Linked DNA regions of Homo sapiens: region 1 is linked to region 2. Evidence: fine-mapped expression QTL. A gene starts in region 2. The other region holds a variant in brackets. All regions are shown on one strand. Distances are between the middles of the regions. Region 1 overlaps FBXO45 (F-box protein 45). Region 2 holds the start of FBXO45 (F-box protein 45).

Region 1 (12,070 bases), 22 kb before region 2:
AACAAACAAAAAACCAAGAGAGATCCCTTTCTATCTGTCTCAAAACCCACAGCTCTAAGTGTCACTCTGTGAGAAGCAGAGCATTTCACTTGGGTGTCACGGCAGAGGATTTGAATTCCGTTGCCATCCTTGCCCTAAAATACTTCATTTCACCTCATCACCAAACTCCCTTCCAGGCTGGGACCCTCAGTTCATTTTAGTATTCCAAAAGTAACCAAAATTAAGCTCTGGGTGTGTAGGAAAGGAGTCCAGTGAAAGATATGAACATAATTCCCACAAGAGAGGGAGAAACTTATTACCCTCATTTTTCATGCTTAAAATAAGCAGGCAGTGAGCTGCTGGGTGTGAATGATTTCGTGTCAGCTAAACAAAAAACAGATCACCAAGCTGGTTTTCCTCTGAGTTTCAAACCTCACCATTCTTTAGTCTCTCCCTTAAAACAGAGAAGAGAAGGACGAGGTAAGAAGTACAGTTTCTTCAAGACCCAAAAGACCTGAGCTTTCTCTTCTTGCCCTTGATTTAGCAAACCAGCTCCTGCTCAGACACAGCCCCTGACAGCGCAGGTAGTGTCTGTTGCTTCTCAGGGCAGAGGCTGGGCAAGGCACCACCCTGAGTCTTACACCGAGACGCTGTGCTCCCCCTCTGGGTGGCTGTCTTGCTGTGAGTCTCCAGTACTTGATGGGGTTACCTTGCTCTCCCCTCTGTATCTTTTTTCCTCTTCACTCCTTTCAGCCTCCTTTGTCGTTTTTCTTCTGGGGAGTCCTCAAATGTGCTATTCCTCATATGGCCAAACTTTGGGGGTGGGAGGAAGCATGTTTATTAGTGTCTTCCTGCAGTACCCATTCTCTCTTCTTTATGACTTCCCTCCCCCTCATCCCCCAGCCACAGAGTCGTAGGGCTGAGACCCCAGTGGCATCCTAGGTACCGTGTGAGCCCACTCCCCATCCCATGGCCATAGCTGATTGGACCAGTAGTAGGAATTGGAGTCTATCTGAGACCCCGAGGTGATCTCTTGGATGGAGGGGAGAAGTGTGGGTGGCCATTTTTCACAACGTGGACTATGTAGAAGAGGAAGTTTGGGGAAAGAATGAAGAAATGTCTCGGGAATAAGGAAGAGGTGGTATTCCCAGGCTCCTGATGGCTTTCCATTGCTTTGTCCAACTTCCTCATGAAAAACAAGGCATTCCTGCTATTGATCTCTGGGAGCCAGCCCTGTATCTCTAAAATAAACTTATTTTGCTTGTACTACCTCAGGTTCTGTTGCTTTGAATATTTTTAAATGTTTCCTAAATTTTAAAACATTTCCTATTTTAAAATGTTTCCTATTCTTAATTTTAGAACCAGATGAATGGAATGTTTTATATTTCACCACAATTTTTTTTTTTTTAGTGACTAAAATTGCTTTTCTTCCATGGTTGGCTCCTAATGATACTTACCTATTATAGAACAGTTCAGTAATAATAATGAGAAATACAGTGAATACTTACTACACTCCTGGCACTGTTCTAAGTGGCTCAATGTGCGTTTCATGTAATGCTCACATCACCTTTTAAAGTAAGTAGCACGATTCCCCCCGCCCCCCATTTTACAGATAAGGGAACTGAGGCTTGGAGGGATCAAATGTCCCACCCAGGGTCACAGAACTAGTAAGTGGTAGAACGTGGGTTTGAATTCATGACCCCAGAATCCATGCCCCTAACCACTACACTAAGTACTTTACAAACACTGGGTTACGAATGCAACCTGACAAAGACCTTCCAACAAACCTTAACACCTTAAAACTGTTCCTGGCCTTTCCCATGGTTCCGGCGAACAACCAAACACAAAATCAAAGTTGCCTCCAGAAAGAAATAGAATTGGTAGAGAGAAAAATTAAAAGGTGTGTTTCCTAGGGTTGCCACAGCAAAGTACCACAAAGTTGGTGGCTTCAACGACAAAAATGTATCGTCCCTTGCCGGGCGCAGTGGCTCCCGCCTGTAATCCCAGCACTTTGGGAGGCCGAGGCAGGGGGATCACCTAAGGTCAGGAGTTCAAGACGAGCCTGACCAATATGGTGAAACCGCGTCTCTACTAAAAATACAAAAATTAGCCGGGCATGGTGGTGGGCGCCTGTAACCCCCGCTACTCAGGAGGCTGGGACAGGAGAATTGCTTGAACCCGGGAGGCGGAGCTTGCAGTGAGCCAAGATTGCACTACTGCACTCCAGCCTGGGCGACAGAGCGAGACTCCGTCTCAAAAAAAAAAAAAGAAAAAAGTATCGTCCCACAGTCCTGGAGGCTAGAAGTCTGAGATGAAGGTGTCAGCAGGGCTGGTTTCCTCTGAGGGTGGTGCGGAAGAATCTGCTTCGCGCCGCTGCCCGGTTTCTGTTGGTTTGCTGGCAGTTTTTGGCACTTGGCATCTGCTGGATGGCCCTGATCGCTGCCTTCATCTTCACATGGGATCCTCCCTGTGTGCATGTCTGCGTCTAAATCTCTTTTTCATAAGGATACCAGTTATCTTAAATTAGGGACCCAGTCTTTTCTGGTATGACCTCATCTTAACTAGTAACATCTGAGATGACCCCATTTACAAATAAGGTCACATTCTGCGGTACTGGAGGATTTCAACATATAAATTTTCAAGGGGATGCAACTCAGCCCATGACATTAGGTTTTATTGTTTCTTTCCTGTAGCAATTTTCAATCATTATATCTCCTTTTATCAGAGATAAGAAGTTTGATTTTAAGATGTGACAAACCACAGGTGCAGCTGCTCAGCTTTGGTTAGGCACCCAAATGTCATTGCCACTCCGATATAGGAAGGACCAAAGCACTAATTCCTGAAAGAATCCTGATAAGGACACCTCTTTTTTTTTTTTTTTTTTTTTTTCCTGAGACGGAGTCTCACTGTGTGGCCCAGGCTGGAGTGCAGTGGCACCATCTTGACTCACTGCAACCTCTGCCTCCTGGGTTCAAGCGATTCTCCTGCCTCAGCCTCCCGAGTAGCTGGGATTACAGGCACCCACCACCACACCCAGCTAATTTTTGTATTATTAGTAGAGCTGGGGTTTCACCATGTTCGCCAGCCTGATCTTGAACTCCTGATCTCATAATCTGTCCGCCTTGGCCTCCCAAAGTGCTGGGATGGCAGGCGTGAGCCACCGCACCCGGGCTAGAACCTCTTTTAAATGACAGCCTCACTTTAGCTCACTAAGGGCCATAGAAAGACCCACAGAAGAGACAGTCTTGCCTTAGGTGCTCACTCTGGCACTGCCATCACCTTGCTCTTGGTCTCTAGAGCTAGAGCTCTTTTTTCTCATACAATTTTCCTGGTTATAAACCAGAGATTTTTGCCTGGCACGGTGGCTCACGTCTGTAATCCCTGCACTTTGGGAGGCCCAGGCGGGTGGATCACAAGGTCAGGAGTTCGAGACCAGCCTGACCAACATGGTGAAACCCCGTCTCTACTAAAAATACAAAATTTAGCTGGGCATGGTGGCACTTGCCTGTAATCCCAGCTACTCAAGAGGCTGAGGCAGGAGAGTCGCTTGCAGCCAGGAGGCAAAGGTTCCAGTGAGCCAAGATCGCGCCACTGTATTCCAGCCTAGGCAACAGAGTGAGACTCCGTCTCAAAAAATAAAATAAATAAAATAAAATAAAATAATCAAATCGTAACATAAAATAAACCAGAGATTTTTGCCTCCACTTGAGGCTGCTCAAATGTCATTCCTGAATGGTGGTCTCCTAGTTCAGGGGAGAAGTACCTGGAGACTTAAAAACAAACAAAAGGCTGGGTGCGTTGGCTCACACCTGTAATCCCAGCACTTTGGGAGGCCGAGGGGGGTGGATCACGAGATGAGGAGATTGAGACCATCCTGGTTAACACGGTGAAACCCCGTCTCTATTAAAAATGCAAAAAATTAGCTGGGCGTGGTGGCGGGCGCCTGTAGTCCCAGCTACTTGGGAGGCTGAGGCAGGAGAATGGCGTGAACTCGGGAGGCGGAGCTTGCAGTGAGCCGAGATCGGGCCACTGCACTCCAGCCTGGGAGAGAGTGAGACTCTGTCTCAAAAAAAACCAACAACAAAAACAAACAAACAAAACTCCACTCTACTACTCCATGGAATTTAATTTGCTAGGGCATCTTATTTATTTATTTGAGAAGGAGTTTTGCTCTTGTTGCCCAGGCTGGAGTGCAATGGCTGGATCTCAGCTCACTGCAACCTCCCCCTCCCGAGTTCAAATGATTCTCCTGCCTCAGTCTCCCGAGTAGCTGGGATAACAGGCACGCGCCACCACACCCGGCTAATTTTTGTATTTTTAGTAGAGACGGGGTTTCTCCATGCTGGTCAGGCTGGTCTCGAACTCCCGACCTCAGGTGATCCGCCTGCCTCGGCCTCCCAAAGTGCTGGGATTACAGGCGTGAGCCACCGCGCCCGGCTGCATCTTATCTTTTAAAAGCTTCCCACATATAGGCTATCTTGATTGTGATGGATATATACATACATCAAAGCTTATCAAATTGTGCACTGGTAAATAGGTATAGCTTGTTTGATGTCAGTTATTATCTCAATAAAGCTAATTTAAAGAAATAAAAAACTCCCCAGGTGATTCTAGTGGGCATCCCAAAATGAGAAGCATTGAGCTAGGTCAGCCTCAGCAACAGCCCCAGGAAGGAAGACATCTGCTCCGGAATCGCGTCGTGACCAGCAGCGCCCCCAGGACTTAGACCGCATGAGTCCTGTGCTGTTGATCCAGTGGTCTTGCCTCAAGACCAAAATGATAGAACATTGCTGAGCTTCTCCCAAAATTAAAAAGAGGCACCTAAAAATTTTGAACTGAGGCTGGGCGCGGTGGCTCACGCCTGTAATCCCAGCACTTTGGGAGGCCGAGGCGGGCAGATCACGAGGTCAAGAGATCAAGACCATCCTGGCTAACACGGTGAAACTCCATCTCTCCTAAAAATACAAAAATTAGCCGGGCGTGGTGGCGGGCGCCTGTAATCCCAGCTACTCGGGAGGCTGAGGCAGGAGAATGGCTGGAACCCGGGAGGCGGAGGTTGCAGTGAGCCGAGATCACACCACCGCACTCCAGCCTGGGCGACAGAGCGAGACTCTGTCTCCAAGAAAAAAAAAAAAAATTGAACTGCTAGGATTGTTATTCAGAGGTGTGGGGTATGTAAGGAAAAGAAAAATCCCGAAACAACAAAACACCCCCGCAGCCTTTAGTTGGCAGAGTCACGGTTTAGAAGGCAGTTGGTTGTCCTTTGGGGGTATTGCAGGCCCGCCTCCCTCGCTCTACCCGCTGGGCTGTGGAGCCCGTACGGCCAGTGAGGAACGCGGCACACCAGCAGCTCTCTCATCCAGCTGGCTGCCGATCTCCTTAACTCCAGGCTCACTAGTTCCAACTGCCTTTTCTGTATTTCCACCTCCGATTTAACATGTTCAAAACCGCACTCGTTACCCTCACCCCCCAATCTTTTTTTTTGAGACAGAGTCTCGCTCTGTCACCCAGGCTGGAGTGCAATGGCGCGATCTCGGCTCACTGCAAGCTCCGCCTCCTGGGTTCCCGCCATTCTCCTGCCTCAGCCTCCCGAGTAGCTGGGATTACAGGCACCTGCCACCACAACCGACTAATTTTTGTATTTTTAGTAGAGGCGGGGTTTCACCACGTTGGCCAGGCTGGTCTCGAACTCCTGGCCTCAGGTGATCTGCCCACCTCAGCCTCCCAAAGTGCTGGGATGACAGATGTGAGCCACTGCGCTCGGCCCCTCACCTCCCAATCTATTCCTCCTTTTCAATACCCTTTCTTAATAAGCAGTACCTTATAAATGTCTGCACCAAAAAGCTTCTCACTCTTGACATACAAATGGTGTCCACATGTGTTCCTGCATTCTCTTAAATACATCCCTCCTCCATCTTTAGTCACCTTAGTTTAGGTCCTCATCATTTTCTGCCTAGACCTCCTGACTCCCACCTTTCAGATATTGGTTTTTGTAGCTAATCATGCCCCTGCTGAAAACTTTTGAATGGCTTCCCCCATGAAAAAATAGACAAAACCCAAACTATTTGGTATGGCAATTATAATCCAGACGCAATTTCCCTGTTCCATGCCCTCCCCCACCACTTGTCCAGCATGGTTCCAGACATAGCGGACCTATCTGTGCCTCCGTATCATAGCACGTCCTATCCCACTTGCCTGGAACAGTGGATTTATCCTCATTAGCTCCCACCTACTATCTTCTAAGCTCAGCTTAAACATCGCCCCAGGTTAACTATTCCCTCTCCTATGCCACCCTGGACCTCACCTGTAATTTCGTTAAAGCAGTTACCTCAGTTTCACAGTAGTCTGTTTCCACATTTGCTTTCACAGAAGCTTGTCAGCAACTTCGATTTTTCCTTCTCATCTTTCCATCTCTAGTACCTGGTAAAAGCCTGCTAGATAACGGATGTTAGAAAATAATTTGATGAATGATCTTTCCTGCCTTTTTCATTCTGTCTACATTACCAAGTGGATGACTAGTAGCTGGGTGGGCAGGGAGATCCTTCAAAATTTCAGAAGCTCAACTATGGCCATGTAAAACCTAGAGTGGCCTCCGTGACTCCGTCGGCACTGAAGTTCCTGTAGGCTGTGCTCAGAAGGGTGGATTGCGCTGGGCTTTGCCACCAGTCTCTGCTCAGAGCAGTGTCTTTGCTACCAACATGTCTTTTAGCAAAGTAACCATCTGTCCGTGCT[A/G]TTCTGGGCAATTGGATCATGAACTACATCACTCTTTGGCCTACTGAGGGGTTAGAGATGTCATCAACAACTCTCATTGCAACCTTAAGCCTCCTTTCCTTCCAAGGTGAAGATGACCAACAAGGGGGCACAGATCAATCATATGCTCTTTAAACATGGGTTGGGAATATGAACAAGTTAGCTATATTAAAATAAACAAAGATATCTGGTCTGTTCCCACTACAATATGCCTCTAATGAATCTAACTTGAGACGCTAGAATTTTAATACATTATTTCAGGGAGACTTTCTTAAGGGAGCTATGACCTCAAAACCATTACTTGATTTTATCCCCATTTTATTTATACAGGAAAGGGGGCAGAAATATAACATGGTGTACAAGTATCATATCATATCATAGACAGGACTTGACTTCTCTAATCTTTTCTTAATGTTTTCCTGCCTTAAACAGAAATTAAACACTATCAACAGGGTGACCTAAGGAAACTCCCCAAATGATTCCTACTTCTTGAGCCACTCATCATGAAATCCTACATACAAAAGCTGAATAACAATCTTAAATCTTAAAGGGCTACTTCTTTCAGCAAACTATTATTCTGAAGACTAGAGAACATGTTGCTCTCAACAGTATTTTAGTGAACACATTAAATAAGAAGCAAACAGTTCGAGGGAGGATCCAAAAAAGAAATCAGGACAACAGACTGGTAAAGCTGTCTCTGGCGTCTCTTTCCACTAAACAAAGCGGCAAATACAGAACATTTACACCTATTTTTCTTTTATAAAATTTAAATGCTTTGGGCTGGGCACGGTGGCTCATGCCTGTAATCCCAGCACTTTGGGAGGCCGAGGCACACGGATCACCTGAGGCAGGGGTTGCAATGAGCCGAGAGCACATCAACTGCTCTCCAGCCTGGGTGACAGAGCAAGACTTTGTCTCAAAAAAAAAAAAAAAAAAAAAAAAAAAAAAAAAAAAAAAAAAAAAATTAAAATGCTTTGAACTTTAACATATCAGCCAACTTGTTTAGCAACATCATCAACTGATTCTCTTTTAAGCTTTTGGATCACAGGAGCCGTGTATTCAGCCAGTTCAGGAATAGCATGCCTGTCTCTCATAATTCTTGGCAAACAACTGCATTATCAAACAAATGTCAGCAGGAGGGTGGGGTGGGGGGCGGTAGAGGCAATTGGGAAATAAGACCCTAGTGAATTACTGTTCTCTGTCCACTTTCCATTCTAAACATGGGGAATGTGGATTCTATTATTAAAGCCATGGAATTTATAGGTAAATTCCATCACCACCTCTGGCTATTAAGGCACCCCAATTTTTCTTTCTAACCAATGTGTAAAAAATGTCTTTAAATGTAAGCAATCACAGGTGGTTAATGTTTAACTTTTTATTAAGAAACTAAGGCAAAACAACAGAATTCCAAAAAATAAAGATACAGAATTCTAATTTAAATTCTAAACAAATATAAAAATCAGAGTTTACCAGTATTTTTGAGTAGAGGGGAGTGGCTAAATGCATTCACAGTAATTATTTCTTCCTTACCAGCCTCAAGTTTGCAACCCTTTCCTTCCTGCTTCACTGGGACTAGAACAGAATTTCTCATTCATCTTTTGCTACTATAATTTTTGCTTCTATAGTCTAAAACTTCAGAGGAGCTTTTGTCTTTCTCCGCAGTTCTTTCTCTGTTCCTTCAGCAAATATGTGAGCACCTGCCTATTGGGCTTACATGTTGTGGCACAAAGATGAGTCCGTTAGAGATCCTGTCCCAGTTTAGGGGCGATATGACACCAATAAATAATCAATAAATAATTTTAAACAAGGTATAAATAAATACAGCATGAGTCAACTATAGATATATAAAACTAGGGAAATTTCAAGGAGAGATTACATTCAGCTAGAGAAACTGAGGAATGTTTTTGAGGACAGCATTTGGGCTGGGTGTGGGCTGTTCCTAATAAAGGCTTCCAAGTGGTCCTGATTATCTACCACAGTCCCAATTGTGGAACTGTGGTGGTCTCAATTTCTGGAAAGTAATCTTTTCAATGCTAACCTTTAAAACTCCTTAAATTTCTGGCCTGGCACGGTGGCTCGCGCCTGTAACCCCAGCACTTTGGGAGGCGAGGTGGGTGGTGTTGGCCAGGAGTTCAAGACCAGCCTGGCCAACATGGCATAAACCCCCTCTACTAAAAATACAAAGATTAGGCCCGGGAACAGTGGCTCATGCCTGTAATCCCAGCACTTTGGGAGGCTGAGGTGGGTGGATCACAAGGTCAGGAGTTCGAGACCAGCCTGGCCAACATGGTGAAACCCCGTCTCTATTAAAAATACAAAAATTAGCCAGGCATGGTGGCAGGTGCCTGTAATCCCAGCTACTCGGGAGACTGAGGCAGGAGAATCACTTGAACCCGGGAGGCAAAGGTTGCAGTGAACTGAGATCACACCACCGCACTCCAGCCTGGGCAACAGAGCAAGACTCCGTCTAAAAGAAAAAAGAAAAAAATTAGCCAGGTGTGGTGGCACATGCTACTCGGGAGGCTGAGGCACGAGAATTGCTTGAACCTGGGTGGCAAAGGTTGCAGTGAGTCAAGATCGTGCACTCCAGCCTGCGTGACTCTGTCTCCAAAAAAGAAACACACACACCACTCCCTAAGTTTCTATCTCTTCAAATTACTCACTTCTTCAAAATAACAAAAAAAAATTAATATTAATATGACAATCTACATAGTTTGGGGATTTAAAAGTTAAAGCTGGGTATAGTGGCATACACCTGTAATCCCAGCTACTTGGGAGGCTGAGGCAGGAAGACTGCTTGAGCCCAGGAGTTCAAGACCTGCCTAGGCAGTAGAGTGAAACCCTGTCTCCAAAAACAAACAAAAGTTCATTATACAGTAGTAGTTTCTTTATGGTTTAGGGCTCTGCTATTTTTGAAACTCTTTCTCCAGTCAAATAATTCTAAAAGGCAGAAAATGCCTAATCACTGAACAATGATTTTAAATATTAACTGGGTAAATCTTACTTTCTTTTGGTGTCTTATTGAATCCATATCTACACTTTATGTGAATGAGGGAGATGAAATAAATGGCTTAACATTTAAGTCAAATAATGAGAAAATAATGGCAACTATGAAATGACATTAACCACAAATTCCTTGTATGAAAAGATTTAATGAATTATGAGCCATTGATCATTACAAACTTTAAGCCTTAATATTTCTTCTTTCCTATGTAAAACCAGGTAATTAAAACAGCCTGTCTCAGTATGACAGAAGACCATAGTAGGGATAATAGTAACGTCTGCTTCCACATCTGCATGCTTCGTTAACCAACCAAAGAAAGTGCTCCAGGTTTCCCAAGTCAACAAAGTATACTCAGTTACACTTTCCCTGATCATACTATGAATTGAAACAGAACACTCCTTTGACTTTTAATAGCACTTTTCATCCACGGCACAAGCACTTTCCCATTATTTTCTCCTTTACCCTCAATATCCTTGTGAGGTAGTGAAGGGAGGGAGCAAGGATTTTTTTTTTTCTATTTTGCAGATGAGAAAACTCAAGGTGAATTTTACAACAGTGGTTCTCAACCTTGGCAGCATATTGAAATGACCAGAAAGTTTTTAAAAATCCTTATGACCAGCTCATATTCCAGACCAACATCAGAATCTTGGCATACGGAACCCAAGCATCGATGTGTCTTCCAACATTCCAAAGTGACTACAAAGTGTATACAGCCAACACTGAGAACCACTGGTTTGAATGATTTACACTCAATCTTCAGGCGCAACTGTCTTCTACCGAAATGCTCTCCTCAGCACCAATGACAAAGATATTCCATCTCCTTGAGCACTGCAGCAGTTTAAGATTTTGTAGAGCTACTACTGGGTTTTAGTGACAAATTTACGTAAATGAAGGCCCTCATGACCCAGATGCTCATGCTGCTCACTTCAATTGCATATGATTTGCGAATGGGACATTCGGGAATTTAAATCTTTGAGATAAGAATGGCTTGTTGTTAAATATTGAGGCAATTATTTCATTCTAGGTCCAATACGCAATAACCATGTGTTTCGGTTTTCCACTCAGCACCTTCAAAACTGTTGCAAATGAATGTTTACTAACAAGACAAAAGAGACAATTATAAACCAAACTCTCAACAAAATTCGGAATGGCCACATCACAACCTGAAAAAGAAACAAGTACTTAAAGGACTTGATCACTTCCTAACAAGTCCATCTTCAACCTGAACCACTTCTCTTGTTTAATCAAATTTTAAACTTTGCCGAACTGAGTTGTTCTACACCAAGAAAAATCAATTTCTATACCACCTACATTCTCTAATACATTTAACATATAATTTCACTCAATACAAGGAGGTTTCTTCTTAACCTGGACATCGAAAAGAATCTTTAACAGATTTCATCTTTTCAAGCAATGTATCAAATACACAATAAATACTTGTAAACTTTTCAGGTGGCAACAATAAATCTTTGTTCTATGGCTGAAATCCCTTGCTTCACAGGAGTATTGACAATCTTAACTCCCAAGGAGCAATCCAAGAATCCCGGCCAGCTGCTGGGTGTCCCTAATCAGATTTAAAACAAAACATACATACAGCAAGAACTCAGAAGTACAAAGATTTCGCTCGCTTTTGTCAATTCTTATGTATCTAAAACCATACAATTTATACTTTCATACAGAAAGATGTCTGTTTCTTTTCTAACAAAAGAAAAACTCTCAGCTCATGTGGGTTGGATTATTAATTCAAAAGCATTTTAGTGATGAGAAACAAGATTTGTAAGTCAAAATAGGAGTTAATGTTAAACTCTTCTACAACGAAACCTTCAAATATTGCCAACCTGAAGTTTTCAGCACAAGGTGTTGTATTTCAAGTCCCATGGGGGCAATTATCTATAATGAGATTAAGAATATTCTTAACCTGTTTCAGCTGGGTAAGTAAACGTTTTCTTTATAGCCCCAATAACGAGTTTGAGGCTTAGATTAGTTGCATGATGTAAACAATATGAAATTAAAATTTTTTTGATAATATCTACAGCATTTATAAGGTTACAAAATAAAAGGACCATTAATCAATTCTTTTTTTCCTAGGCTCTATGACTAATAGCTTTCATATTTGAGGCCTACAAGAGCAAATGGCAATGTTCTGTGTTATGAGACACTTTCTTAGAAGGCCAAAAATAAAACTGGATACCAAAAGATACACATTACTATTATGTTGAGATCATCCTTACTGATATATGTATAATTAGAAATAGATTTGCCTTCCTTCAATCTTTAGCCAGGAGACTGAGAGATCTTTACTATGATTTTGAGAGTAAAAACAAAAACAAACCAGAC
Region 2 (12,070 bases):
AAATTCTCCAAACTCAGTCCTCAACTCTCTATCTGAATTATTTCCAAACCTGTCTTTCTAAAACAGCACCTTTACTACATATCTCATCCCAGTTCTATAACCTCTGGTAGTTCCATACTTAGTAGCATCACCAACTGCAAATTCTTCTGCCTGGCTTTCACAGCCCTCCAAATCTGATTCTTCCTATTTCCCTTTCTACCTTGATGATGTTCTTCTTGCTGAAAGTATTATATGTGCTTTCTTCTCCCACACATTCTCTAAGATCACCTCTATTAAGCTATTCTTAACCAGGGCCACCCAATTCCCTTGATGTCTCTCTCTGCCGGGTGCTTGCCCACCACTTTCTGTGCCACGTAACAATTTAGCAGCTCTTATTTTCTAACACACTTTTAACCACTGAGTCTAGTACAAAATAACTTGCAAAAAAAATCTAATCTAATCTAAATTGATCACACCTCAGTAGGAAATAGAGGACAGAAGAACATGTCAAGCAACACGATGATAATGAAATCCGCAAAATCGAGCTGAGAGTAAACCACCTTGTTTCCTCAACAAATAAGGTGGGAGGTTGGGGAGATGGTGAGTGAATATGTAGACTAAAATAGCCTTAAGAGACATATCAACCTTTGCCATGGGACCCTTATATAGATCTTGATTATATAAAATATAACTTTAAAATGCAACATTTAACATTTATGAGACAACTGGCAATTTGAACACTGCATTTTTGATATTAAGGAATTAATGTACATTTATATTTAGATGTGATAACCATATTGTGATTACATTAAGTGTCTTTACTTTTTAGAAACAGATACTGGAAACTTCATATGAAATGGGAAAATAGGCCGGGCATGGTGGCTCACACCTATAATCCCAGCACTTCAGGAGGCCGAGGCAGGCGGATCACGAGGTCAAGAAATCGAGACCGTCCTGGCCAACATGGTGAAAGCCTGTCTCTACTAAAAATACAAAAATTAGCTGGACGTAGTGGCAGGCTCCTGTAATCCAAGCTACTTGGGAGGCTGAGGCAGAATCACTTGAACCCAGGAAGCAGAGGTTGCAGTGAGCTGAAATTGTGCCACTGCGCTCCAGCCTGGGCAACAGAGCAAGACTCTGTCTCAAAAAAAAAAAAAAAAAGGAAAATAAAGACCAAATTAATAAATTAAAAACAACCCATAGCCTCACATTCCCATGCACAACCTGAATTTTGTTATGGCAAAAGCAGCATGAAGACCTAGCTTAAAATCTAAGTCTGAACTTTAGAGAATTCTCATCAGATGCCAAGTATGACTTAAATAATTAATGCTACGGGGTGATATGTAAAATATGAACTTAAAAAAAAAACAACTGAACAGATTAATAAACTCCACTTTCCTGTTCTATGCTATCCCTAAACCTTTTCCTATCATTCTCTGTTATCCAGGCTCCTGGGAAAATCCATTTGACACATCCATCTTCCTCATCCCATTCACCCAGTCAGCTGTCTACCTATGTATATTGTTTTCTACGACAGCTCTCCAGCCATCCCCTTCTCTCCTCGATGTACCTGTTCCAGTCTTAAGTATCTCTGGTATAGGCACTAACCGCTGCCCTCTCCAACTCATCTATGGCCTAGTCTTTTTGAAGTAGAGCCTTTGTCACTCTGCTGTTCAAACTTCTATGGTTTACAACTGTAGTACAAAACCCAAACTATAGACTGAAGGCTATATTTCAAAGCCCTCCATGATATATCTAGTCCCATAATATAGCTTTATAATATTTCCCACTACTTCCTTTCATTCAATCTAACTATATTATTTTATATCTTTAGCGCAGATCTCTCCTCTAAGCTCCAACCTCCAACAGCTGCCTATTGGAAATCTCTGTCTCAAAAATACTGTAAATGCTGCTCTCCCAAAACTGAACTCACTGCCATTTCTTCGAAACCTAGCCCACCAGCCTGGGCAACATAATGAGACATCTCTACAAAAAAAAATAATAATAAAAATTAGCTGGGCATGGTGGCACATGCCTGTAGTCCCAGCCACACAGAAGGCTGAAGTGGGAGGATCGCTTGAGCCCAGGAGTTCAAGGCTGCAGTGAGCTATGATCATTCCACTGCACTCCAGCCAGGGCAACAGAGCAAGACCTCATCTCAAAAAAAAAATCTAGATCAACTGATCTCTACATTATGTGAGCCAAATACTAGGAGTCATCCTTACCACTTCCCTCTTCCTCATCCCTATTTCAAATCTATTGCCAATTCTATAGATTTTACTTACTAAATCTGCCCATTTCTATCTCCTCCACTACCTATTTCCTAATTGATCTACCATATTTCTAAGGTCCTCTTCCAACCAACAATTTAGTTCTCCATACTAAAGTCAGAAATAATCTCTTAAAATGCAAAATAATCATATCACCAATCCCCACACCTCAAATCCTTCTTGCTTACAACTCAAAATGGCTTCCCTACGCTTTGGTCCCAGTCCACTTCTTCCATCTTATCTCAAACCAGCATCACCTTTGCTCTCTGTGCTCCAGCCACATTGACATATTTTCCATCCCTCACACTCATAAGGTTCCCTCCTGGAAGGCTGTTCTCTCTCCCCTTTGCCTACTTATCATCCTTCAGGTCTCAGTACATGGATCTGAGAAAGCCTTCCCTCACCTCTCCACCAGGTTAAATCCTCCACTACTGACAATCAGAGCACTAGGTATTTTTCCTTCATACTACTTACCAGATGCGGTTTTACATCTGTGTGATTATTTGATTAATATCCATTTCCCCTACTAGACTGTAAGCTCCATAAGGCAAGACATCCATTAAGAGACTGTGTTTGTTTTATTTGCCATTGCATCTGCAAATGAGCATAGTGCCTGGCACTCATTTTTTTAAATAAAAATATATGTTGTACAAACCCTTTACTTTCCTCTTGTCCTGCTTCTGCTCAGAGTACTTCCTCTTCCTAAAATACTAAACTCCTCCTCATCTTTAAAATTCAGCTCAAATATAAGCTCAACCTCAAATCTCCTCCAATCCTCCACTCAGTTTGTAAATTCCTCCTTTCACTGAACTTCTAGTATACTTTTTTATGTCTGTAACAGTAAGGAGCAATTTCTACCACACATTAGCAGTTCTTTCTATACATTTTTCTCTCCTCTACTAGACTGAAAGATTTCCTACTAGACTATTTGACTCCTTTTGAATTAATCTTTTATCCTCAAAATATTCAAGGGAAGTCCTACAATGTGTGAATGAACAGTGATTGGTACAAGTCTACAACATCTATAATGCACATAGCAGAAAAGCAAAGTATTAAAAACCTCAGAAACCTAAAATATCTCTGGAAGGATACAAAAGAAAAAGTAAGACAGGTTGCATACATGGAGAGGAACCGGGTAGCTGAGCGACAAGGATGAAAGGAAAACATTTTGCTTGATATCATTTTGCTTCTATTGAAGCTTGACTCACACGAACACATTATCTATTACATATTATAATATGAATCTTGAATCATGTGAACATTTCTATTACAAGTCAATTATCAAAACAACAACTCCTAATTTAGGCTGGGTGCAGTGGCTAATGCCTGTAACCCCAGCACTTTGGGAGGCTGAGGCAAGAAGATCGCTTGAGTCCAGGAGTTTGAGACCAGCTTAGGCAACAAGGTGAGACCCCGTGTCTCTAAAAAATAAAAAATTAGCCAGTGTGGTGGCACATGACTGAAGTGCCAGCTACTCGGGAGGCTAAGCTAAGGAGGATCCCTTGAGCTCAGGAGGTCGAGGATGCAGTGAGCTATGATTGTGCCACTGCACTGCAGCCTGGGCGACAGAGTTTTGTTGTTTTGTTGTCTCAAAAACAACAACAAAAACTCCTAGTTTAAAATAAGTAAAAACAATAAACTTTACAGAAAAATAAAAACTAAATAAAATTTATGAAACCGACACATTTATCAAAGTAGGACAAAATTCCAATCGTCTGTACTCACCTATATAAATTACAACCAGTATCCACTGAATAGCCACCACGCACAAACAGTCCTAGTAAATTATTGTTATTTCGCTTAATAGAAAAACAACTTGAGGCCGGGCGCATGAGCTCACGCCTGTAATCCCAGCACTTTGGGAGGCCAAGGCGACGGATCACGAGGTCAGGAGATTGAGACCATGCTGGTTAACACGGTGAAACCCTGTCTCTACTGAAAGTACAAAAAATTAGCCGGGCGTGGTGGCGGGCGCCTGTAATCCCAGCTACTCAGGAGGCTGAGGCAGGAGAATGGCGTGAACCCGGGAGGCGGAGGTTGCAGTGAGCTGAGATCCCGCCACTGCACTCCAGCCTGGGTGACAGAGCGAGACTCCGTCTCAAAAAAAAAAAAAAAAAGAAAAAAGAAAAGAGAAACAACTTGATAGTTTACATATTTAATGGCAATGTTCCCTATCTTCTATAACTAAAACCGGTTTTACTACATAAGTATAAATTTTACATGCTTCACATGAAAAAAAAATTTTTACTTCTTACTCCGACCCCTGTTGGCAAGCTAGCATTAAAAAGGGGGTGTTATCGCGCGGTGGCTCACGCCTCTAATCCCAGCACTCTGGGAGGCCGAGGAGGGCGGATCACCTGAGGTCGGGAGTTCGAGGCCAGCCTAACCAACAAGAAGAAACCACAACTCTACTAAAAATACAAAATTAGCCGGGCATGGTGGCGCATGCCTGTAATCCCAGCTACTCGGGAGGCTGAGGCAAGACAATTGCTTGAACCTGGAAGGCGGAGGTTGCGGTGAGCCGAGATCACGCCATTGCACTCCGTCTCAAAAAAAAAAAAAAAGGGGGGGATGTTATCGTTTTAGTTACTAATGCATTCATTATGTTTAACACATTGCAATCAGACTTTATCTTCTCTTATATATGATCTTGATTGACTGCTATACTGAATAGCTGTTAACCATTCAACTCAACTCAAGACCAAGACCCTTTGTTTATTCGGCCTGAGAGTCCTTTCAGCCGTACCACAACTTGTTCCTTGACATTTTTATTTTGTATATGAAGGCGGGCGGAATATGCAGGAAGGATGCAGCGAAACTGTAATCAGCACGTTAGATGACAAATAGAAAAAGAGAGACACCATCAATGTGGAACTATTAAAAAGTTAGCAAGGAAACAGCCAATAACAGCAGGACAAAGCAGTATGTTAGGTGGTGCCCGTGGACGTTCTATAAAAGCCTGTATCTTGTAAGTGAGCAGGATGACTAGAACTACACTCACTTGTAAGCCTCCAATATAGTGGAGGGAACTAAAGAGAACTTGGGGGAAAATAATGAAAACAAATGGTTAAAAATCAGAGCTTGGAAAAGATGAGATAAACGTGGAGTGAAAGCAAACTAGAAACTTAGAAACTTAGAAACTAAGCCCATGTTAAGGTGGCCGGGATTATTTAATATAATGAAGTCTATCTGGAGGCCGGGGAGAAAAGTAGGATGAGGGCATTAAAAGGTACAAGAGTGGTGGTCTGTCTTTAACGGGGAAAACTGTCAAAAGTTGAATGAGTGAGGCAAACTACCTAGTTGTTTGAAAAGTGGATCACGGAAGTGGGATGGGTTAAGGAGCAGAACTTCGATCCAAAGAAAAGAGAATCTTTATCTTGGGGGGAGGTGAGGAAGATACTGACTGGAGCCGTGGAAAGGCGGGCTGGTGAGGCGAAGCTTCTGACTCAGAAGCTCGGATGAGAAACACCGCGAACGACGCCGGGGAGCGGGACTGGGGGCAGCGGTGTGGCCCGGGGCTCTCTCACCTTGGCCTTGTAGCTGGGCAGGTTGCACAGGATGTCCGTGCGCAGAGCCTCTTCTGCCAGGCTGCGGGCGCACAGGCTCCGCCACACCTCGCTGTTCTCATCGCCGTGCAGGCAGCGGTACCAGTGCTTGCACACCAGGGCGCAGCTCCGCAGCTCGGACAGCTCCAGGTAAGAGAACACCAACTCCAGCACCCGGCTGGGCAGCCGGCCCCCGGCCCCCGCGGCCCCAGAGCCCGAGCCCGCGCCCGCGCCCGCGCCGCCGCCGCTACAGCCAGCGCCGCCCGAGGCTGCCCCAGCCCCCGGGGCCGGCGCCGCCATCGCCTCACCAGCCGGCCCTAGGGCCGCCGCTGCCGCCGCCGCTTCCCGCCGTCTCTGCTCGGAAGGCCAAGCCTCGCCCGGAGACCGGAGCGGCTCGCTCACCGCCCCTGTCAGTGCCAACCGCCGGCGCCTCCACCACTCCCGCCCCTGCCCGGGGGCGTCCGCCGCGCGCCCCGCCTCACTGAGGGCAGACGCACCGGCTGCAGGGGCGTCCTCCGCCCCTCCTCCGCGGCTCAGCGCGGGCGCCGAAACCGCCCGACTCGCCCGGCCTCTCCGCGGCGCGCCAGCGGCTCCGCCATGCGGGTTGAGGGCACGAAGCAAGGGCGCACGCCCAGCTCGTTCGCGGTTCCTCTCGGCCCCGGATGTGACTGTTTGGCTGCGCCGCCTCACGCCTGACGCTCGACGGGATTGGGCGCCGGCGGGTGAGGTTATCACTAGGCGCCGAGGAGGGGAGCGGGAAGCGCAGGTATGAGGCTGGCGCCGGTGGCTTCGATGCTGCTTTCCGGTGACTTCGATGCTGTTTTCCAGTGCTTTTTCCTTTTTCTGGTCTGGTGGCTCCGCGTCTGCTCTCCTGGGCTCCCTTTCCTGTGACGTTTCCCTGTGTCCGTTAGGTCCTTGCTTCAGACTCCAGCTCAACGCATGAAACTTTTCTCTCCTTGCTTGCCGGGTCCTGGCTCCCCAACCTTTTTGTGTAGCTTGGGCAGCGGAGGCCGTCTTTACCTGGTCAGGCCCTCTCGTTCTCCCTAAGTATCGGCACTTAGCGAACGTCTGTCCCTGTGTGCCTTCGCAAAGTAAGGTGGCTGCGACTGAACACCCCCTCGCCCAAACGTTCGAGTGCCATTTGAGCGCTAATTAAGTGCTGCCGTCTTTTGGACAAGATGTGGTCTTTACTGGATCCACCGCTTAGTAAGCAGATGAAGGCAATGTAGTTTTAGTCAATTAAACATTCCAATAGGGAGAATGACGTGGAGGCTATAATTATAGATGGATTCTTGGAAGGGGAAGAATTTCAGCATCCCAGCTTGGGCAACATTGCGAGGCAGTGTCGCTACAAAAAAATAGAAAAATTAGCCGAGGGTGGTGGCGTGCGCCTCTGGTCCCAGCTACTTGGGAGGCTGAGCCCGGGAGGTCGAGGCTGAGGTGAACCGTAATCGCCCTGCTGTGCTCCAGCCTGGGCGACAGAGTGAGCCCCTACCTCACACACACACACACACACACACACACACACACACAAGAATTTCAGCATTATTTGATTATACTACGATTTCCTAGGTGGCCCCAAAGTTTTCCGACAGCCTTTAAAGCATGCTTAGTAAGAGAATAATAATAACCATCATTTGAGCCACGGTGTGAACCAGGCACTGTATACTACGTCATTTACGCAGATTTTTATATACGTAATCCTCAAAACAACTCCATGAGCTGAGTAATTAAAATAATAGGGTTCACAGACTCCCTTGGTCAACTCCAATGTCTTGGAACCTTTATGTAGTAAGAAATCTTTTCTGAAGCTTCTTGCTATGTATAATCCATTTCTTAGTCTCTAGTAAAAGCAAAGGAACGGTGGCTACCTTCCCTACCCTCTGATTCATGGTGTTTGATTATTATTTGCCTGTCCCTTCTCCTCATGTCTTTTTCACCAAGTCCAGTAACCCTAATTCTTTTCATTCTTACCAGTGCCAGCGCCACAGCCCTTCAATCATTTTGGTTGCTATCCAGCTTCTCCACATCAAGTCCAACTTCAGAAACCCCAAGCCTGTAGAGAAAAGTTGACCTGTGCTGACTCTGGTGATGGTGACTGTCTCTCACTAATTTCTTTGAAGTCTTCAAGGATAAGCAGAGTTGATCCATCTGAGAAAGGGATCATGAACTAGACAGAATGAACAGCCTTAGAGGCACAGACTCTTGAACGGGACGGTGGTGGTATGACTAGTGCAGAGTGTTTAGAGATCACTCAGTTTTTAAAGACTGGCCTTTATCGTGTCTCAGTGCAGCCGAGGCAGAGCCTTTGAAGGATGCGATGTTGTCATTCTTACTAATCTAGTCCAGCCGCTGAGGTGACTTTCAACGGCAGACCGTCTCCTGAGCGCCCCAGGTAGAATTTCAAAGTAAGATTACCCTTCTCAACCCCTCCTTTTCTTTTTTACAAATCTTTCACCTGCTCATCACCCACCCCACCAAGCCCCTTCCCCATGTTCAGTACTCTCATTCTGCGCTCTGGCTGATGAGAACTGCCGGCTGTGGCACTTCACCCTTTTAAAAAATGCTCTCGGCCGGGTGCCGTGGCTCACGCCTGGAATCCCAGCACTTTGGGAGGCCGAAGCGGGCGGATCACCTGCAGTCAGGAGTTTGAGACCAGCCTGGCCAACATGGTGAAACCCCATCTCTACCAAACATACAAAAATTAACCGGGCGTGGTGGTGCATGCCTGTAGTTCCAGCTACTCAGGAGGCTGAGGCACAAGAATCGCTTGAACCTGGGAGACGGAGGTTGCAGTGAGCCGAGATTGCACCATTGCACTCCAGCCTGGGCGACGAGAGCGAAACTCTGTCTCAAAAAAAAAAAAAAGAAAAAAATGCTCTCAAAATAACTCACCTGGCAGGGCACAGTGGCTCATGCCTGTAATCCCAGCACTTTGGGAGGCCGAGGTGGGTGGATTGCTTGAGCTCAGGAGTTAGACCAGCTTGGGCAACATGGTGAAATCCTGTCTCTACAAAAAATAAGATAATTAGCTGGGCGTGGTGGTGCATGCCTGTAATCCCAGCTACTTGGGAGACTGAGGTGGGAGGATTACTTGAGCCCCGAAGGTGGAAGTTGCAGTGAGCAGAGATTGGGCCACTACACTCCAGTATGGGTAACAGAGGGAGATACTGTCTCAAAAAAAAAACACAAGAAAAAACTCACCTTTCCCTCACCCACTCTGTGTGATTTCTTTAGGTATTAGAAGGAAGTGATCTATTATCTAATTAAAGTAATTTACAGTAGGATATGATTAACTGCTGTGCTTAACGCTTTAGGCAACTCCATAGGAAAAGAGAAGCTTGTTGACTTGATACGTGAATGTGGGGATGGTGACACTTCACCTCTTTCTGCCAGGCTTTCCAGTTGCAGTCATAGAAAAGCAAGAAACAGTGGCTTGCCAACTCATTTCTGAAAAATTGTTTTGATTTAACCCAACTTTAATTACATTTTTTCCCACTACCCTTCTATCACAGCAATCTGATTAACTTTTTCATAGTGTTCTTTGGTGTGTTTCAAATAATAACAAATCATTTTAGTTTTATAGACTAAGTAAACAATTTTGGAGGCTCTAGTTGAATCGCTGATCAATAGTTTGCATAATAAATCTTGATTGACTAAAATTAATAGCCTCAGAGTTTATGGATTTCTGTTTCTGGGGCTTTCCAAACTCCCCCCTGCCCCCTCACCCCGACTCTCACCCAGGCTGGAGTGCAGTGGCACAATCTCAGTTCACCACTGCAACCTCCACCTCCCAGGTTCAAGCCCTCAGCCTCCCGAGTAGCTGGGATTACAGGCACGTACCACCACACCCTGCTAATTTTTGTATTTTTAGTAGAGACAGGGTTTCTCCATCTTGGCCAGGGTGGTCTTGAACTCCTGACCTCAAGTGATCCGCCCTCCTCAGCCTCCCAAAGTGCTAGGATTGCAGGCGTGAGCCACCACGCCCAGCCTCCCCTGGCCCCTGCCTTTTTTTTTTTTTTAACATTCCCAGTAACAGTTATTTATTTTTCTGACTAGATAAATGATCAGTAAATATTATCTATGTGATTTAGAGAGTAGGAGTTTAGTGTGTAGAGTTTAATAAGATGAAAGTGTTCTTGGGGTCTTGTGAGACTAATAGAACAAGAGTTACTACTGGTTCCACTGTGGAAAAATTTATAGGAACTGTAGTCTTTATAATAATCCCTTTAAGGACAAAATTCGTTTATTGCCTGTCTTCTCACACTTCGGAGCAAAACTTAACTGAATGAACCTTGAAGATTGAGTTAATCTTTTCTAGAAAAGAATTAAATTAGGAAGAAAACCTGCTAAAACTTTTGTCTGTCAGTCAGCATTTATTTGGCTCTCCTGTGGGTAGATTTGTAATGGAGAAACAGGAGCACTAGAAACCTTGCCTCATTCTTGTTTCAGAGAAAACCTAAAATCCCAGCTGGGATCCAAAACCTGTATGCACACAAATATCAGCAAATCTTAATGCTCTAGAGTACAGACTTCCTGACTTCAAAGTTGATTCATCATAGCAAAATTAAAACTATAACTTGGCAAAAAAGTGATCGACATTCTAAAGATTTGAAAGCATTGGCTGGGTGCAGTGGCTCATGCCTGTGATGCCAGCACTTTGAGAGGCTGAGACGGGAGGATCACTTGAGCCCAGGAGTTCAAGAACAGCCTGGGGAATGTGGGGAAACCTCATCTCTACAAAAAAAATACAAAAAATTAGGTGGGTTTGGTGGTGAGAGCCTGTAGTTCCAGCTACTCAGGAGGCTAAGGCGGGAGGATCACTTGAGCCTGGGGAGGTCAAGGCCTGCATGACAGAGCAAGACCCTGTCTCAAAAAAAAAAAAAAAAGAAAAAAGAAAAAAAATTGAAATCGTTAAACAAAATTATTTGTAACTTAAATTGACTTTTCAATACTCAATTCAAATTTGTAGGATAGCATCTTTATCATGAGGTAAGTCAGTATTACAGTTCCTAAGCCTAAATACTATCAGTGCCTTTCGTTTAAAATCTAGGTTTATCTGGAACTTTTGGCAACAGTCTTCGTTACGGCATATTTACCTGCTGCTGTTTCAGTACTTGTCAGCAAAAATCAAACCACCAGGGCTCCCTGTTTTTACCTCCCTCTGAGTCATTTCCTCTCCAATTCTCTCCTTTAAATATTATTGCTTCAGTCTCCAGTTAGTTTCCTCTGTATATTAGTTGAGTGCTTCTGCTTGAAAACAAAAGTTTAATTTTGTTTTTTATTTTGTTATTTTTATGAACATTTCTGTATTTGATTTTGTGATCACGTTTCCGTTACCTTGATTACTAATAGATCAGTGATTTTTTTGCAGTCTAATTAGTGATCGTATGTGTGACTAAAAGTAGGGGGAGGCTGGGTGCGGTGACGCACGCCTATAATCCCAGCACTTTGGGAGGCTGAAGTGGGTGGATCATGTAAGGTCAGAAGTTCAAGACCAGCCTGGCCAACATGGTGAAACCCTGTCTCTACTAAAAATGGAAAAGTTAGCCTGGCGTGGTGGCAGGCGTCTATAATCTCAGCTACTTGGGAGGCTGAGGCAGGAGAATCGCTTAAACATAGGAGGCAGAGGTTGCAGAGAGCTGAGATTGTGCCATTGCACTCCAACCTGGGCGACAGAGCAAGACTCCGTCTCAAAAAAAAAAAAAAGCTTTGTGTTGGGAATGGAAACTTTGGGCAGATTGCCAGATTATTTTAAATGATTTTATCTCTGTACCACTGGGCTAAATTCAAGTATCTTATCTGAAAATAGCACAACAGCTCTGGGGGCTGGCACTCGGGTAAGCTCTCCTTTCGCTTATGAAATGAAAAATTAAATTTGTCCAGGTAGATTTATTTGCTTCCTTTTGTCTTGACCAAGATTAGAGTTGTATAAATTGCCCTGATTTCCTTTTTGCCTTGACCAGCAGGCGGGCACGGCAGGCCGGTATTATGTGGCATTTCCAGTGTGTGTATATCTGGGATTCCTAGAGGATGAGAAATCTAAATTTTACACTGTTGTGTAAGTGCAGGTAGATGATAATATGATTAAACATATGTGAGTACATTTTCAAGCACTGATGACTTACTAGTAACTTTTGGTCATTTTCTGTTTCTTCAAAGAATAATAACAAAACTGTTGTCAGGTGGAGTTGTTAGAAAAGGACCTTCATTATTTAAATATTTGGAGCCTGGGCAACATAGGGAGACCCCGACTTTGCAAAAAAAAATTTAATA

What was found.
Region 1: its variant is fine-mapped to the expression of FBXO45 in skeletal muscle (GTEx, PIP above 0.99). The same link has a PIP of 0.9 or more in cerebellar hemisphere and cerebellum.

Annotation. Positions count from the first base shown.
Region 1 is chr3:196,585,079-196,597,148 of GRCh38, reverse strand. FBXO45 (F-box protein 45) reads right to left here. Exons shown (of 3, transcript NM_001105573.2): 3 at 8,090-12,070. Among named protein-coding and RNA genes, the nearest start is that of FBXO45, 22 kb to the right of the region's middle. The variant A/G (reference allele first, on the strand shown) is at 6,712.
Region 2 is chr3:196,563,009-196,575,078 of GRCh38, reverse strand. FBXO45 (F-box protein 45) reads right to left here and starts at 6,419. Exons shown (of 3, transcript NM_001105573.2): 1 at 5,777-6,419. The coding sequence starts at 6,094. It overlaps WDR53 (WD repeat domain 53), which reads left to right and starts at 6,525. Exons shown (of 4, transcript NM_182627.3): 1 at 6,525-6,560; 2 at 7,772-8,202. RefSeq lists enhancers at 4,070-4,617, 4,618-5,166, 7,184-8,383, 10,754-11,953 and silencers at 5,507-5,801, 5,923-6,462.